Linked DNA regions of Homo sapiens: region 2 is linked to region 1. A link means that fine-mapping ties the variant in region 1 to the expression of a gene that starts in the linked region. Tissue or cell type: uterus. Region 1 holds a variant in brackets; the other region holds the start of a gene. All regions are shown on one strand. Distances are from middle to middle.

Region 1 (7,880 bases):
GCTACATGCTGGGCCTCACTGAGCTGTATCCGTCTCTTTCAGAGCCAGCGGTGAGCCTGGAGCAGTGTGAGCAGCTGGTGGCAGAGCTCCGCGGCAGCGTGCGCCAGGCAGTGCGGCTCTACCACTCGGTGGGTGTTAGGTGCCCCCCGGCAGGAAGGCGGGCACGTCAGTAGTGCTGGGTGTTTCGGATAACCATGTCCAGAACAGTATGCTAAGCCTCTTGTGCTGACAGGATGGCACACTCAAGAACATCTTGGGCAGCATAGGTGAGGGGGTTAGAGGCCAGGCTAGCCTCTTGTACCGGGCACCTGCGGTCATTTCTGGTTAAGAGCTGGAGACTTCCCTCAGGAGGTGAGGCCTGAAGAGACCACACCTCCTAGTTGGCTCAGGACAATCCCAGTTTATGTCGTTGTCCCAGTGTAATTATTAATGGCATCCTTTTTCATATCCATGAATTATTTGGCCCCCTTAGACATAGGGGACAGTCCAAGAAGGCCCAAACTTTGAAAGAGAAAGCAGATTCTGCCGGAGTTGTCATAAGGAGTTGCTTATAAGATGTAGACGGTTCTGCAATCCAATGGGTTCCTCCTTGGGCGTCACCCCCAGAGTCTGCCTGCATCCCATGTTCCCTGGCCATACATGCTGATCTTGGCGGGTAGAGTTCCCAGCTAGTCCCTTCTGAGGCAGGCTGGACCCAGGTGGGGCCCCTCCCTTTTATATGTCTGTTGACAGGCTCCTCCACCTCACTTCTGGGGGTGCTATTTCAGGTGGCTGGCTGCAAGATGCCCTCAGCAGAGCAAAGTCGGATTGCCCAGCTCCTCAGAGACACCTTCTCTTCAGTGCGACAGGAGCTGGAAGCTGTGGCTGGGGCAGTGCTGTCCAGCCCAGGCAGCAGCCCTGGGGCTGTGGGAGCCGAGCAGACACAGGCCCTGCTGGAGCAATACTCAGAACTGTTGCTTCGAGCCGTGGAACGGCGTATGGAACGCAAACTCTGAGTTCTGGAAGCCTGTCCCAAGTGAATGAATGCTCCAGCGATTCCAAACTGCAGCCCCTCTGCCCCTCACCAAAACCTGCGGGGCTGCTTGGAGTGGAAAGCAGGGAGCAGTGTTCAGAGGCAAAGCAGCCTTCCCAGCCGCTCCTCGTGGGGGGCCTGTATTTATTAATTTATTTCCCTGACTGTTGCCTCACTTCCTTGGAACTCCTGCCTCCACAGCCCCTCCAGTGGCAGGGACAGGTCTTGGGTCTTTGTCATCTTGGTGCTGTGAGAGGTAGGAGGGCAGCCTGCCCCATCTAGGAATCTGGGAAGGGCTGGCCCTCTCTTAGAAGCCATTTGAAATTACTGCAGGGATTAGCTCCCTGTGGTGGAGCATACACAGGGTACTCTGGGGTCGAGGTGAGAGGTGATGTGGTATTCAGTGCCCGTCAGCCAACTGTGGGCCTTCACCTCTACCTGCACTTCCCCTCTCACACCAGCTGCACTCCCGTGGCTGCCAGAGCAGGGTGGTTTTCCCCAATACCTGGAGCTCAGAAAGGCAGAGCCATCTGGCCCTCCAGGGTGTCCCCAGCCATCAGGAGACTTGAGTTGGTATTTGGACCTGAGCCCGCACATTCCACTCCCATTCTCCCTCCAAGAGGGGCCCAGCATTGTATTTCCCTGTGACCCCTTACTCTCCTGGCCAGAACTTGAGCCAGCTGTGGGATGTTGCTGCAGGACAGTAAGCCCTCACCTGGGCAAACATGAAGCTCTGGCCTCCTTTCCTCAGCCCCTTGTTCTTCCCTGTCCTCCACCCTGGACCCCAGCCGGCTGCTGGAGCCCAGAGGCCACCTTCTCCCTGCATCCTGAATGATGCTTAGTCAGAAGCCTGTGTTGGAACATCCCTCGTTTACGGGGCGCTGGCCTACCTCCTGAGGACCTCAGCCACAGATGAGATCACACGCATGCACGTGCACACATGTACACACACACACCTACCTGCACAGCACGCTGTTGAGTGTTGGTTGCTAGAGTATCTGGCTGGCTGCTGTGTGCCTGGTTTCCTCACATCCTGCCTCAGCTTCACCACCCTGGCTTATGTGGAACACCTATCAGGGAGCAGAAAAGGGGTGCAGTACACTAAGTGAACCCAGATTCTGGATTCTTGGTGTCCACAGCCTAGCTGATACGAGATAGCCCATAGGACACCTGGTTTAGGTAGAAGGAGCCTCCTCAAAGGCAGTGCTGGGCACCCACGGGTGTGCTGGATACTGGAGTTTGAGAGGAGGGAGGTGCTGGGGCCAAAGGAGACACTAGAAAAGTGGTAGATGGGACAGGTAAGTGGCAGAGGTGAGGGGATAAGTTAGAATGTAAAAGGGCAGTAATTAGGGGTGAGGGAAAGGAGATAGGGGACCCTAGGAGGTAGAGTGGGACCATGTCGTGAGGCAGTTGAAGAGTTGAGGAAAGGTTTTTCTGGGCCCTACTGCTCCCCTCTGCTGCAGGTAAGTCAGAGCAGCTTTACCACAGCTTCAGGCCACGAGAGCCCCTTCACCCGCCCTGCTGCGCCATAGGCAGAGGCTTATAAAGAAATGGGTTCTGGGCCAGGTGTGGTGGCTCAAGCCTGTAATCCCAGCACTTTGGGAGGCCGAGGCGGGTGGATCACCTGAGGTTAGGAGTTCGAGATCAGCCTGGCCAACATGGTGAAACCCTGTCTACTAAAAATAAAAAAATTAGCTGGGCGTGGTGGTGGGCGCCTGTAATCCCAGCTACTCGGGAGGTTTAGGCAGGAGAATCGCTTGAACCCTGGAGGTGGAGGTGGAGGTTGCAGTGAGCCGAGATCGCGCCATTGCACTCCAACCTAGGTGACAAAGCTACACGCCATCTCAAAAAAAAAAAAGAAAAAGGGTTACAAAAGGTTCCCAGCTCCGGGGCATCAGCCTGAGTGCGCTTGAGCTGCTCCAAACCTGGCCCTTCCCCACTCCTCTAGCATCGCCACCCGCATGGCCCTGGAACTCCCGCGGCGGCGGGGGCGGGCCCGTGCCTGCTGTGCCCCGACTTCCCACACCAGCCGCGCCCACCGCAGGTGGGACTCAGGTTCGCCCTCTGGGCCAGGTCCTTCACGAGGAGGGAGCTACCCTTCGCCAGAAGTTTGTGAGAATGTGGCCGCCCTTTTCCTGCCCTCTGCCCCATGTGGGTGGGGGGCCTCGTGGCCCGGCCGGCGCCCCGTCCCCTTCTGCATGTCTGAGGCCACCGGCAACCGCCGCCCCACTCCAGATTTGCCCCCGCCTTGTTTTGAAAGCCCCTTATTTATAACTTTTATACTTTGTGCAGGTCGCGGCGCTTCCTGCCTCATCCTCGGCTGCATGGGGCGGGGGCGCTGTTTTTAACGTGCCCGTTTGTACTGATGTATGAACTTGTCAATAAACACAATTGTTTGTTAACCCTGGGATGCCGGCCAGTGGGGCAGGCCGAAGCGGGCGCTGCCAGTCGCTCCACCGCTTCGGTGGCAGAACCCGGTGTGTGTCCAGGGGCAGGACGGGGCGGGGTGCTGGGGGTGTGGCCTGCGGCGGGTGCCTCTGGAAGGGCGGGGCGAGGGTCTGGGGGTGTGGCCTGCGGCGGGGACTCTGGGGAGGGCGGGGCGAGTGCTTGGGGTGTGGCCTGCGGCGGGGCGTCGGGGAAAGGCGGGGTCTCGGCCGGCGCTGACGCAGCCATGGCGGAGGCGGCTTTGGAAGCCGTGCGGAGCGAGTTACGAGAATTCCCGGCCGCTGCAAGGGGTGAGTGGCTCTCCCACAGGCTGCGGCGATTTCCGAACACGGGAGGGGCC[C/G]TGGGATGCCGCTGACACCGGGGGCTCGGAACCTCGTGTGTGCGACTGCCCTGAGGCCCCGCTCGGGTTGCTCTTCTGTGGCAACCTGCTTCCCTTCTCCCGTGTTCGCGCGCTCCCGCGGCTTCCTGGGTGATTCTGTTCACGTTGTTCCCAAGGCCCGGTGCCGTCTTGACCGTGGTCGCGGCGAAGCCCTGTGTTTCCTACAGTCTTGAGCAGCTTGCTGTTACCCTTGTTGAAAGCTCATCGAAGGCACACAGCTGGTGGTCGGATTCCTCCCCCACGCGCCCCACCTCCGACCTCAACTCCCTTGTCGCACTTTGGGAGGATTGCAGGCTGACCAAATGGTCCCTGGCTCTTCCCCTGCTTGGTTTTTATTCCTTTTCTTTCTTTCTCTCTTCCCTCCTTCCTTCTTTTTTCTATTTTTAAATGATTTCTTACCACTGAACAGCAACACAGGCTCATGTGTATGTGATGGGTATGTAATATACAGTGGTACGCAATGTAAATGAAGCAAGGTTTCCTCCCAGCCCCAGTTTGCATTCTTACAGAAAGATTGTTTATATCCGTGCACACACGACTTTTTACCCTTTTTTTGTACAAATAGTAGCCTGCTAAACACACTCTTCTGCACCGTGTATCTTGGAGATCATTTCACATTCCTCTACCTCAGTCTTTTTCACGTCTGTGTGCTAGTGCTGTATTCACTTAGTCATTTAGGTCATGTCCAATCCGTTGTTTTCAATAATGCTGCAACGAATACTTTGAGGATTGATTTAACAAATACTTATTCAGCATCTCTGTGTGCCAGGCTCTGTTCAGTGTGTTTGAGATACATCACTGAACAAAACAAATCTGTCTTTTACAGTCTATGTCCTGTTACATTCTAAGTGAGAACGTGGACAATCAACCACAGGTGTACTGAATGAGTACATTGTAGAGTAGAAGAAGTAGGTTAGAAGGTAAGTGCAGGCAAAGCCCTCTTTGGGAGTATGCCTGATGTGTTTAGGAAACAGTGAAGAAGCCAGTCTGCAGGAGCAGCGTCTTCTGCGCATGTGTGAGTATGTTTGTTGGTTAAATACTTTATATTTTTTGAGACAGGGTCTTACTCTGTCACACAGGCTGGAGTGCAGTGGCACGATCATAGCTCGCTGCACCTCGACCTCCCAGGTTCAAGAGATCCTCCTGCTTCAGCACCTGGGAGTAGCTGAGACTACAGGCATGCGCCACCACGCCTGGCTAATTTTTTTGAATTTTAGTAGAGACAAGGCTGGTCTCAGATTCCTCAAACAATCCTTCCACCTCAGCATTCCAAAGTTTTGGAACGCCATGGAACACATAAGCCACTGCTCCCGGCCTTGTTAAATTCTTAGCAGAGTTATGGGGTCAAAGCAATTGTTTGGATCCCTTTTGAAATTTTCTCACTTGGAAGCCCCAGGAGAGGAAAGCAGCCATTCTCTAAAGGAAATGGTGAGCAAGTAAAACAAATCCCTAATTGCAGAAGTCCAAAGGGTGAAAAAATGGCAGTTTCCATGTATTTTCAGAATCCCAGGCTGTGTGCAGTACTCACGCCTGTAATCCTAGCACTTCAGGAGACCAAGGTGGGAGGCATCTCTTGAGGCCAGGAGTTCAAGACCAGCGTGGGCAACATAGTGAGACACCATCGTGTGGTGGCATGTGCCTGTAGTCCCACCTCCTGAGGCAAGAGGATTGTTTGAGTCCAGCAGTTTTGATGACAGTGGCGGGCAGTTGGAAGCAGATGCTGTCATCATGCTGGCTGCAGTGGGGAGGCACAAGTCGGGCAGCAGAAGTGGCTCTGGGAGCAGCAGTGGTGGTAGTGAGTCCCCTGTTCCCTGCATCCCCGAGGCAGCCGACTGCACCACCCCCACCCTCACATGGCTGGGCAGGACCTGCTCCTCAGCCCAGACCCTCTGCTGCAGCCTGAACCTCGCTCCCTGCCACATCCCAGAAGCCTGCGAGCACCCTGCCAAAGGTGCAACTGGGACTTGTAGGGACTTGCACTTGTGAGTACAAAAATACTCACACATGTGCACAAAGACCCTGCTCCTGCAAACTGGCTTCTTCACTGTTTCCGGAACACAGGACTACTAGGCTCATTTGTTTGGGGTGGTCAGAGCTGCCATGCCATATGCACCTTGCCCGCCGCCGCTGTGGGGAAAACGTGAAGAGGAGAGGCAGCTGGGGCCACATGTTCCACAGAGCTGGCGGGAACTGGGGACAAGTGGGAGCCCCACCCCTTCCAAGTTGGTGGAGTGGGAGCTCCCTAGGCGCAATTACAGCCACCCAAGCCAGGACTGCAACTCAGGCACCCCTGTGCTCTTGGGAGCTAGGAGCAGGCAGGAGCCCCACCCTCCTAGATGCAGCTGCAGCCTCCCAAGCTGCAGCTGTGGACCCAGGCATGTCTGCACTTTTGGGGACCCAGGAAGGCCCCTTCCTGCTGCCGCAGGCTTGGAAGTGCCTGATCCTGCTGTCTGGCTTCTCCCCACTGTCAGCACCTGATCAGATCATGGAGCAAAGTTGAGGCCGAGCCTGGGTGCTATTGCAGTGCTGACACACCAGCCCCCTGCCTCCTTGGCCCCCTCTGGCCTTTGGGTGCCAACGAGCATGGGAGGGAGGCCAAGAGGGGCTGAGGGCAGCTCAGTGCTGGCCTGCAGGCACCCCCTTGGCACAAACAGCTTGGGTGCCGTGAATGGTGGCAAGAGGCAGACAGGTTCCTGGGTGGAAGGTGGCGGGTCCCGGTGAAGCCCGACCTTCAAGCCAGGGAAGGCCTGAAGCCTGGGGGCTGGGCTGCCGGTTCCATGGACCGGAATGGGAACTTTTGGTGCTTTTTCCGGCCCACCCATGGCTGCCCATGGACCAATAGGCATGTACCTCCTCCCCTGTGAGACCCATAAAAAGCCCCTGACTCAGCCAGACCAGAAGAGACGATGGGACGACCAGCTGCGGGGAGGAGCTACCCTCTCTGCTGAGAGCTGGAGAGATGACAGGACAACCTGCCCACAGAGAGGAGCTACTCTAGCCAGGGAAGCAAGCAGGCATGCCAGCTCTTTCTTTTCCAGTATTCCTGGGCCCAGTGGGGTCTTCTCACTCAGTTACAATATTTGATCTAAGAACATTCACTTTCCAACTGATCAGAAAGTAAAGGTGACTGGCATGGTGTGGCTGTGAGAGATGCAGTGTGACCTCAGAGGTGAACATCAGTGCCGGGACCATTTGGAGCAGGATGTGGTAACCACCAAATGGAAACCACGGCCTTTTGGCTCGACCTAGAGCATGAATGTAGCAAAGCGAAGCCCTGTACACTTTATAAAAACCAGCAGAAAGACACTCCAGTCTGAGTGAGCAGCTGGAACAAAGCTCTGCTGAGCTGAACACTCAACAGGACTACCTGCCTGCAGAGAGAGGAGCTATCCTCTTTGCTGAGAGCTGAACACTCGTTGGGACACCCTGGCTGCGGAGAGGAGCTGCCCACTGTGGGTCTCCTCTGAGCTATCCTATGGCTCAGTAAAGCTCCTCTTTGTCTTGTTTACCCTCTGCTTGTCTGTGTGTACCTCATTCTTCCTGGATGCAGGACAAGAATTGGGACCTGCTGAGTGGCGGGGCTAAAAGAGCTGTAACATGAAGAGGACTGAACCATGCGTCTTGCTCGCCACATTGTGGGTGTCCAGAAGGAAAGAAGAACTGCGGCCCTTTGGGGAGTCCAGACCCAGGAGCTTCCCAAGCTGGGGTTCTGACACCCTCTTTAGGGCTCTGCGGTTCCTGGTATCTGCAAGCTTCCAGGCACCACCATGCTTCCCAGTGTCAGCTGTGGAAGCTGCTTATGGTACACCTGGTCTAGCTGCAGCCTTGCAGGAAACCAGCACCTGTGTTGGCACCTGAAGCTGCCTGCCCCACCGCAGCCCACATGCCTAGCTGTGCGCAGTGGCCAAACCCCACACTCATTCGCTCACACACCCCTCGCTGCCCCACTCGCCCTTGGCAGGTGTGGGATCCAGGCCGGTAGCATGAGCTGAGCACAGCCTGCAGGGCCGAGTGGGCCCAATGGGCCCGAGCAAAACAGGCAAA
Region 2 (7,880 bases), 280 kb before region 1:
ATTGATCTTTATAGCTGGGTAATTCTTTGCTGTGGGAAGCTGTCCTGCGCACTGTAGGATGTTTAGCGGCATTCCTGGCTTTTACCCACTAGACGTCATCATCAAACCTCCTCCCCTAGTTGTGACAAGTAAAAATGTCTGCAGACATTGCCAAATGTCACCTCAGAAAAAAATCACCCCCAGTTGAAAACCACTGAACCAGACCTTGAAGGATAAGATAGGCCTCCAGCCAGAAGGGAGAGCTGGGCAAAGGTATAGAAGCAGGGAATAGGGCCGGGCGCAGTGGCTCACACCTGTAATCCCAGCACTTTGAGGCTGAGGTGGGTGGATCATCTGAGGTCAGGAGTTCAAGACCAGCTTGGCCAACATGGTGAAACCCCATCTCTACTAAAAATACAAAAAAATTAGGCAGGCGTGGTGGCATGTGCCTGTACTCCCAGCTACTTGGGAGGCTGAGGCAGGAGAACGGTTTGAACCCAGGAGGTGGAGGTTGCAGTGAGCCAAGATTACACCACTGCCCTCCAGCTTGGGTGACAGAGCTAGACTCCATCTTGAAAAAAAAAAAAAAAAAAGCAGGGAATAAATATGGTACATGGGAGAACATGATGAAGTTGACCACCTCCTAAAAGTTGAAGGAGGATGAGATGGAGAGGTAGACAAGCTAGATAGCTGGAACTAACAATAGTGCTGAATGAAGGCCGGGTGTGCTGGCTCACGCCTGTAATCCCAGCACTTTGGGAGGCCAAGGCAGGCAGATCACGAGGTCAGAAGATCGAGACCATCCTGGCTAACACGGTGAAATGCCGTCTCTACTAAAAATACAAAAAATTAGCTGGGTGTGGTAGCACGCGCCTGTAGTCCCAGCTACTGGGGAGGCTGAGGCAGGAGAATGGCGTGAACCCGGGAAGTGGAGGTTGCAATGAGCCAAGATCGTGCCACTGCACTCCAGCCTGGGGGACAGAGCATGAGACTCTGTCTCAAAAAAAAAGTGCTGAATGACACATTTCCTTACTTTTTCTTCATCTACTTCTAAGCAGGATCAGATCTAATAACTAAGCCAGCCTTGGAAACACCTCCCAACACAGGGGTTGGGGGCAGGCTAAAGGGGTAGAAATGGTGAAACAATCACATGACGGTGTGACCTTAAGAACATTATCAAAAAATTTTTTGAGAGTTTACTCTGGGCTGAGCGGTGTACAAGGGGCTGTAAATATAAAGAAATGGGAGTAAAATCCAGTCCCTGGGTTCAAGGGGCTTACTGGGGAGACAGAGACCATGCCGAAATGCTGGGTCTTTTAATAATTTCCCACTTCATTATCTCTCTTTGCCCACACAAGTCTAGAAATTCCAAAGGTTTACAGTTTAAATGATGTCTCCAAGATTGTAAAGGTCTTCCTTTGGTCAATGATGTACCCAAAGTTGGGGTGAGAGAATATGGTAAACACACATATAAATTTACAAGGCAGTACATCCCAGTGATGAAATTAATTGCATAGAAGATCAGTGCTACACGATTTCAGAGGTGGGAAAAATCCCTAAAGGTTAAAAATAGAGGTCAATATTGAAAGAGAAAACTTAGATAAGTAGAGAACTGAAGGAAGTGGATGAAGTGAGCAAAGACCTGTCTACAAAATTTCATCTTAAATTTGGCATAGAACTTGTATTAATTACTATTTGTAGCATGACAACAGCGAAGTATACAGATGTGCCTTTTCCTGGATGGGAGGTAAACAGTATGAAAATGGACTGCCTGTGTTCAAATCCAGGCTCTGCCATTTACTAACTGTGTAAGCTTAAGCAAGGTATTTTACTGAAGTTACTGTGCTTGTTTCCTCATCTGTAACATGAAGATAACTGTACCTACCTCCTGAATTAATTATATATATGTAAGAAGATTAGAACAGAGTCTCATACATGAAAGGACACAAACGCCAGTTATGATTCTTATTATTTATATAGCCAAAGGGCAGATAACCATATCTAATTGTTGGGCAGTCTGACCAACAAACAAGGAAAAAGTCTCCTACCCCAATGCCTACCCAAAGGCCCTAAGGAAGGCTGAACTAGATGAACTGAGAATCCATAGTATGGTAACAATTCACTCCTATAAGAGTCTACATAAGCAGAAACAATTCCTACTTATCCATGGATTCATGTGATCCAAAAGCAAAGTCCAGCTCACTTCATAGGGTGCGCCATACCTACATCACAAAGAGAGCCAGGGGGTTATGGGCACCAGTTTTGGAATCAATAGGCCAGAAGTCAAATACCAGTTCCGCTACTTACTAAATGCACTAAATGTGCGAAATTAGGCAAATTATCAATGCTGTCCTTTTTTTTTTTTTTTTTTTTTTTTTGAGACAGATTCTCCCTCTTGTTGCCCAGGCTGGAGTGCAATAGCACGATCTCGGCACACTGCAACCTCCGCCTCCTGGGTTCAAGTGATTCTCCTGCCTCAGGCTCCCGAGTAGCTGGGATTACAGGCGCCTGCCACCACGCCCGGCTAATTTTTTGTATTTTTTTAGTACAGACGGGGTTTCACCATGTTGGCCAGACTGGTCTCGAACTCCTGATCTCAGGTGACCCGCCCGCCTCGGCCTCCCAAAGTGCTGGGATTACAGGCGTGAGCCACCGTGCGCGGCCTCTATGCTGTCTTAAGTCCCATTTCCACAACTGTAAAATGTGAGTAACAGGTCCTATATAATAGGAAATGTGTGAGGATTTAAATGACTATACACGCAAAACGCCTAGCCCAGTGCCTGTTACTTATATAAATAAACCTCAGTAACAATTATTTTAGTCCTAAGTAAAGCCACCAGTGTGTTTCCCCACAAATCCAGCGCAGATTTGTCCAGAACCAATCAGTGCTAGAAGTGATAACATTTTCAGTTATTAATAGAATAAGAATGGGTTGGCCGGGCGCGGTGGCTCACGCCTGTAATCCTAAAGAGTAATGCCTAAAGAGTAACTCGTAAAAAAAAGTAGTCCTAACAATGGACCTCTGGGTTTATGTTGGCCTCTGAGGAGTCTCTGGGGCTCTTACATTGCAGCCTATCCTCCAGAGCCAGGATCCAATCCCGAGTCGGGACGCGTGACTGCCCTTACCGCTCAGGTCAAGGGCTCCAGTTAAGCCTCCTGGACCACCCAACTCTACAATGAGGAATCATCGAGTCGCAGCTTTCGCCGCCCGTTGAAGGGCCGTGCCCGAGATCTATGCACAGAGGAGGCCACAGTTGCTCCCTTACAGACCAAAGGCCCGCAGGCAGGTTCCAGCAAAGAAACTGGACACGCTACCCTGGGTCCTCCTCCCAGATCACCTGAAATCCGTCCCTCCAGCCCCGCCACCTACGTGCTCCAGGCCTGTCTGGGCGCCGCCATCTTGCCCCGCAGAGATCGCGTTTCCGCCGCCGCCAGATTCCAGCTTCCGCCCCGCAGCCCAGCCCCGCCTCTCCCGGTCTTATCTCGGAGCATTCTGGGCTTTGCTTGTTCAGTGCAGCGGACTGGTGAGCGCGGTGCTGCGCGGCTGGCGGTTTATTACCCCCACGTAAGCTCTATACCATCACCCAGAACACACATCCTTTTTTTTTTTTTTTTTTTTTGAGACAGAGTCTTGCTCTGTCGCACAGGCTGGAGTGCTGTGGCGCAATCTCGGCTCACTGCAACCTCCGCCTCCCGGGCTCAAGCGATTCTTGTGCCTCAGCCTCCCGAGTAGCTGGGATTACAGGTGCCCGCCACCACGTCTGGCTAATTTTTGTATTTTTAGTAGAGACGGGGTTTCACCATGTTGGCCAAGCTGGTCTCGAACTCCCGACCTTAGGTAATCCGCCCGCCTCGGCCCCCCAAAGTGCTGTGATTACAGGATGTGCCACCGCGCCTGGCCCACACATGCTTCTGATGTACAGCAGGCACAGCCCCTTCTGCACTTACGACACCCCTGGCAGGGACACAGCGTTCCTCAGACGTCCCTCTGCACTCACCAGCCAGTGTTACCACATCCCACATCCCAGCACCCACGCCCACGGCAGCACACAGAAACGTGGACACACACACACACCCCAACGTGACGAATGTGTTTATGGAAGAGCTAGAAGGTAACCATGAAAAAGGCCCAAGGAAAGAACACTGCCAGTGTGCACTGCAGAAATAGTGGTGGTGAGAAGAGAGGGAATAAAGCTTCCTTGCTAGCAAGGTTATCATCTTCTCCAGAATCTTGCCTTTGTTCATCCCACTCTCCCTTCTTGGAAATCCTCCCTCTTTTCCCTGCCACCCCTGTCTCCAAAGGATAACTCTTTAAGGCCTAGCTGGCGTCAACTCTAAAACCTCTGCCAGCCACGCCTACTCACCAAACTTTCCTTGGATTCACCTGGAATCTCACCGCCTGCACCAGTTGTGTGGTATGCTAAGAACACACTGCCAACTACCAACTGTCACCGGTTACCTTTTCACAGGCTTATGTCCTGTTCCCTTGAATAGACTGTCAGTTCCTTGTGGGCACCAGACCTTGTACTTTGCATCTAAATACTGAGCACCCAACGTGTTGCCATGCACATAGTAGGACCTTAAGTAAATCATTTCTAGACCAAAGGACATCATGGGGCAGCCAATGTTAGTCCAGTGGCTTTCCAACTTTAACAGGCACCAGAATCAACTGGAAGTCTTGTTAAACCAGATTGCTGGGGCCAGGCACAGTGGCACATGCCTATAATCCCAGTACTTTGGGAGGCTGAAGCTGGCAGATCACCTAAGGTCAGGAGTTCGAGACCAGCCTGACCAACATGGTGAAACCCCATCTCTACTAAAAATATAAAAATTAGCAGGGCATGGTGGTGTCCATCTGTAGTCCCAGCTACTCAAGAGGCTGAGCCAGGAGAATCACTTGAACCTGGGAAGCGGAGGTTGCAGTGAGCCAAGATGGAACCACTGCACTCCAGATTGGGCCACAGAGCCAGACTCTGTTTCAAACAAAACGAAACAGATTGCTGGGCCTCAACCTCTGAGTTTCTGATTCAGTAGGTTTTTCTTTTTCTTTCTTTTTTTTTTTTTAAGACGGAGTCTTGCTCTTGTCGCCCAGGCTGGAGTGCAATAGCATGATCTCGGCACACTGCAACCTCCTCCTGGGTTCAAGTGATTCTCCTGCCTCAGCCTCCCGAGTAGCTGGGATTACAGGCGCCCGCCACCATGCCCAGCTAATTTTTGTATTTTTAGTAGAGACGGGGTTTCACCATGTTGGCCAGGCTGGTCTCGAGCTCCTGACCTCAGGTGATCCACCTACGTCAGCTTCCTAAAGTGCTGGGATTACAGGCATGAGCTACTGCACCTGGCCTGTTTCAGTAGGTTTCCTTTTTTTTTGTGACAGAGTCTCGCTCTGTCGCCCAGGCTGGAGTGCACTGGCGCAGTCTCAGCTCACTGCAACCTGCACCTCCCGGGTTCACACCATTCTCCTGCCTCAGCCTCCTGAGTAGCTGGGACTACAGGCACCTGTCACCATGCCGGGCTACTTTTTTGTATTTTTAGTAGAGACAGGGTTTCACCGTGTTAGCCAGGATGGTCTCCATCTCCTGACCTCGTGATCTGCCCGCCTTGGCCTCCCAAAGTGCTGGGATTACAGGCGTGAGCCACCGTGCCCAGCCGATTCAGTAGGTTTCTAATAGAGCCCCAAAATTTGTATTTCTACCAAGTTTCTAGGTGATGCTGCTGGTCCCGCACTATAGCAGATCTATAATCCTCTTGGCTTCAACTACAGATGTAAATTTCGGCTACTAGGATTTAGTCATCTTGAGGTCCAAAATAGTACTAGACCTGGTCAGAAGTTATGGAGGCAGCGGGATGAGGGAGAGGAACTGGAGCCAAATATGCAGAATGAATGATAGTAGAAAATAATTGTTCGCAATGAAATAACGAGATAATGGCTCCTGGCAATGGTGCCACCACGCCCAGCTAAGTTTTGTATTTTTAGTAGGGACACGGTTGGACCATGTTGGCCAGGTTGGTCACGAACTCCTGACCTCAGGTGATCTGGCCTCCCAAATGCTGGGACTATAGGCATAAGCCACCATCCCCAGCTCCAGCATTCTGTTTTAACAAGCCTTCCACTTAATTTTGGTGCCTGCTAAGGTTGGAAAACACACCCAGCCTCATATAAAGTCTTCATCAACCTTTGACCTAATAGTTTTAACAGTCATTGTTTAACAACTAGGTGAAAGGTTGATGCAGACTTTATATGGATGGATCAGGTTGCCATTATATGAACTTACTGATGAATCTTTTCTACTGTTTTGAGATAGGGTCTTGCTCTGTTGCCCAGGCTGGAGTGCAGTGGTGCAACCTCAGCTCACTGCAACCTCTGCTTCCCTCTGCTTGCTGAGCTCAAGCGATTCTCCTGCCTCAACCTCCTGAATAGCTGGGATCACAGGCCTGAACCAAACGTGGCTAATTCTTTTATTTTTTGTAGTGACAGGGTTTTGCCATGTCACCTAGTCTGGTGTCAAACTCCTGGGCTCTAGTGACTCACCCGCCGCAGCCTCCCAAAATGCTGGAATTACAGGCATGAGTCACTGCACCAGCCGAGACTATTTATTTATTATTTATTTTATTTTATGTTGTTGAGATGGAGTCTTGCTCTGTTGCCCAGGCTGGAGTGCAGTGGCATGATCTCGGCTCACTGCAGCCTCCGCCTCCTGGGTTCAAGTGGTTCTCCTGCCTCAGCCTCCTAAGTAGCTGTGATTACAGGCGTGTGCCACCATACCTGGCTAACTTTTTTCTTTTTTTTTTGAGACGGAGTTTCGCTCTTGTTGCCAAGCTGCAGGGCAATGGTGTGATCTCGGCTCACTGCAAACTCTGCCTCCTGGGTTCAAGTGATTATCTTGCCTCAGCCTCCCAGGTAGCTGGGGTTACAGGCACATGCCACCATGCCCGGCTAATTTTTGTATTTTGAGTAGAGACAAGGTTTCAATTCACCATGTTGACCAGGCTGGTCTCATACTCCTGACTTCAGGTGTTCTACCCACCTCGGCCTCCCAAAGTGCTGGGATTACAGGCGTGAGCCACTGCGTCCAGCCAATTTTTGTATTTTTAGTAGAGACAGGGTTTCACCATGTTGGTCAGGCTGGTCTCAAACTCCTGACCTCAGGTGATTTGCCCACCTCAGCCTCCCAAAATGCTGGGATTACAAGTGTAAGCCACTGCACTGGGCAGAGACTATAACATATGAAATGCGGTCTTTGTTTATATCTTCATTTTTGAAACTGTTTTTTTGAGACTGTTAGGGAATACTAAATATAAACTAGATTTTGTATGATATTAAGGATTTACTTTTTTTTTTTTTTGAGATAGGGTCTTGCTTTGTCACCGAGGCTGGAGTGCAGTGGTGCTGTCATGACTCACTGCAGCCTCGACCTCCTAGGCTCAAGTGATCCTCCCACCTCAGCCTCCCAAGTAGCTGGGACCACAGGTGCATGCCACCACACCCAGCGAGGATTTATGAAATTTTTATTGGGTAAGACTATGTTTTTTTGTTTCAAAGACTGGGTGTGGTGGCTCATGCTTATAATCTCAGCACTTTGGTAGGCTGAGGCAGGAGTATTGCTTGTGGCCAGGAATTCAAGACCAGCCCGGGCAACGTAGGAAGACCCTGTTCTATAAAAAAAATTTTTTTTAATTAGCTGGGTGTGGTGGCACCTATAGTCCTAGCGATGCAGCGGCGGGGGAATAGCTTGATCCCAGGAATGTGAGGCTGCAGCAAGCTGTTTGCACAACTGCACCCCAGCCTCAGTGACAGAATGAGACTTTGTCGCTAAAAAGAATTTTTTTTTTTTTGAGACGGAGTCTCGCTCATGTCGCCCAGGCTGGAGTGCAATGGTGCAATCTCAGCTCACTGCAAC

Which allele goes with the higher level. Alleles are on the strand shown, and positions count from the first base shown. SD is a standard deviation of normalised expression in the study named.
With allele C in place of G in region 1, the expression in uterus of the gene that starts at base 3,388 in region 2 is lower (small effect, 0.36 SD a copy in GTEx).

What was found. PIP is the estimated chance that this variant, and not a neighbour inherited with it, causes the effect.
Region 2: it holds the start of RPAP1, and the variant in region 1 is fine-mapped to the expression of RPAP1 in uterus (GTEx, PIP 0.99).

Annotation. Positions count from the first base shown.
Region 1 is chr15:41,824,442-41,832,321 of GRCh38, forward strand. MAPKBP1 (mitogen-activated protein kinase binding protein 1) reads left to right here. Exons shown (of 31, transcript NM_014994.3): 30 at 43-128; 31 at 768-3,414. The coding sequence ends at 995. It overlaps JMJD7-PLA2G4B (JMJD7-PLA2G4B readthrough), which reads left to right and starts at 3,651. Exons shown (of 25, transcript NM_005090.4): 1 at 3,651-3,747. The coding sequence starts at 3,684. JMJD7 (jumonji domain containing 7) reads left to right here and starts at 3,651. Exons shown (of 8, transcript NM_001114632.2): 1 at 3,651-3,747. The coding sequence starts at 3,684. RefSeq lists enhancers at 1,321-2,203, 3,249-3,478, 3,510-3,804 and a silencer at 3,539-3,628. The variant C/G (reference allele first, on the strand shown) is at 3,798.
Region 2 is chr15:41,540,870-41,548,749 of GRCh38, forward strand. RPAP1 (RNA polymerase II associated protein 1) reads right to left here and starts at 3,388. Exons shown (of 25, transcript NM_015540.4): 1 at 3,350-3,388. RefSeq lists a silencer at 1,948-2,148 and enhancers at 2,628-3,209, 3,143-3,532.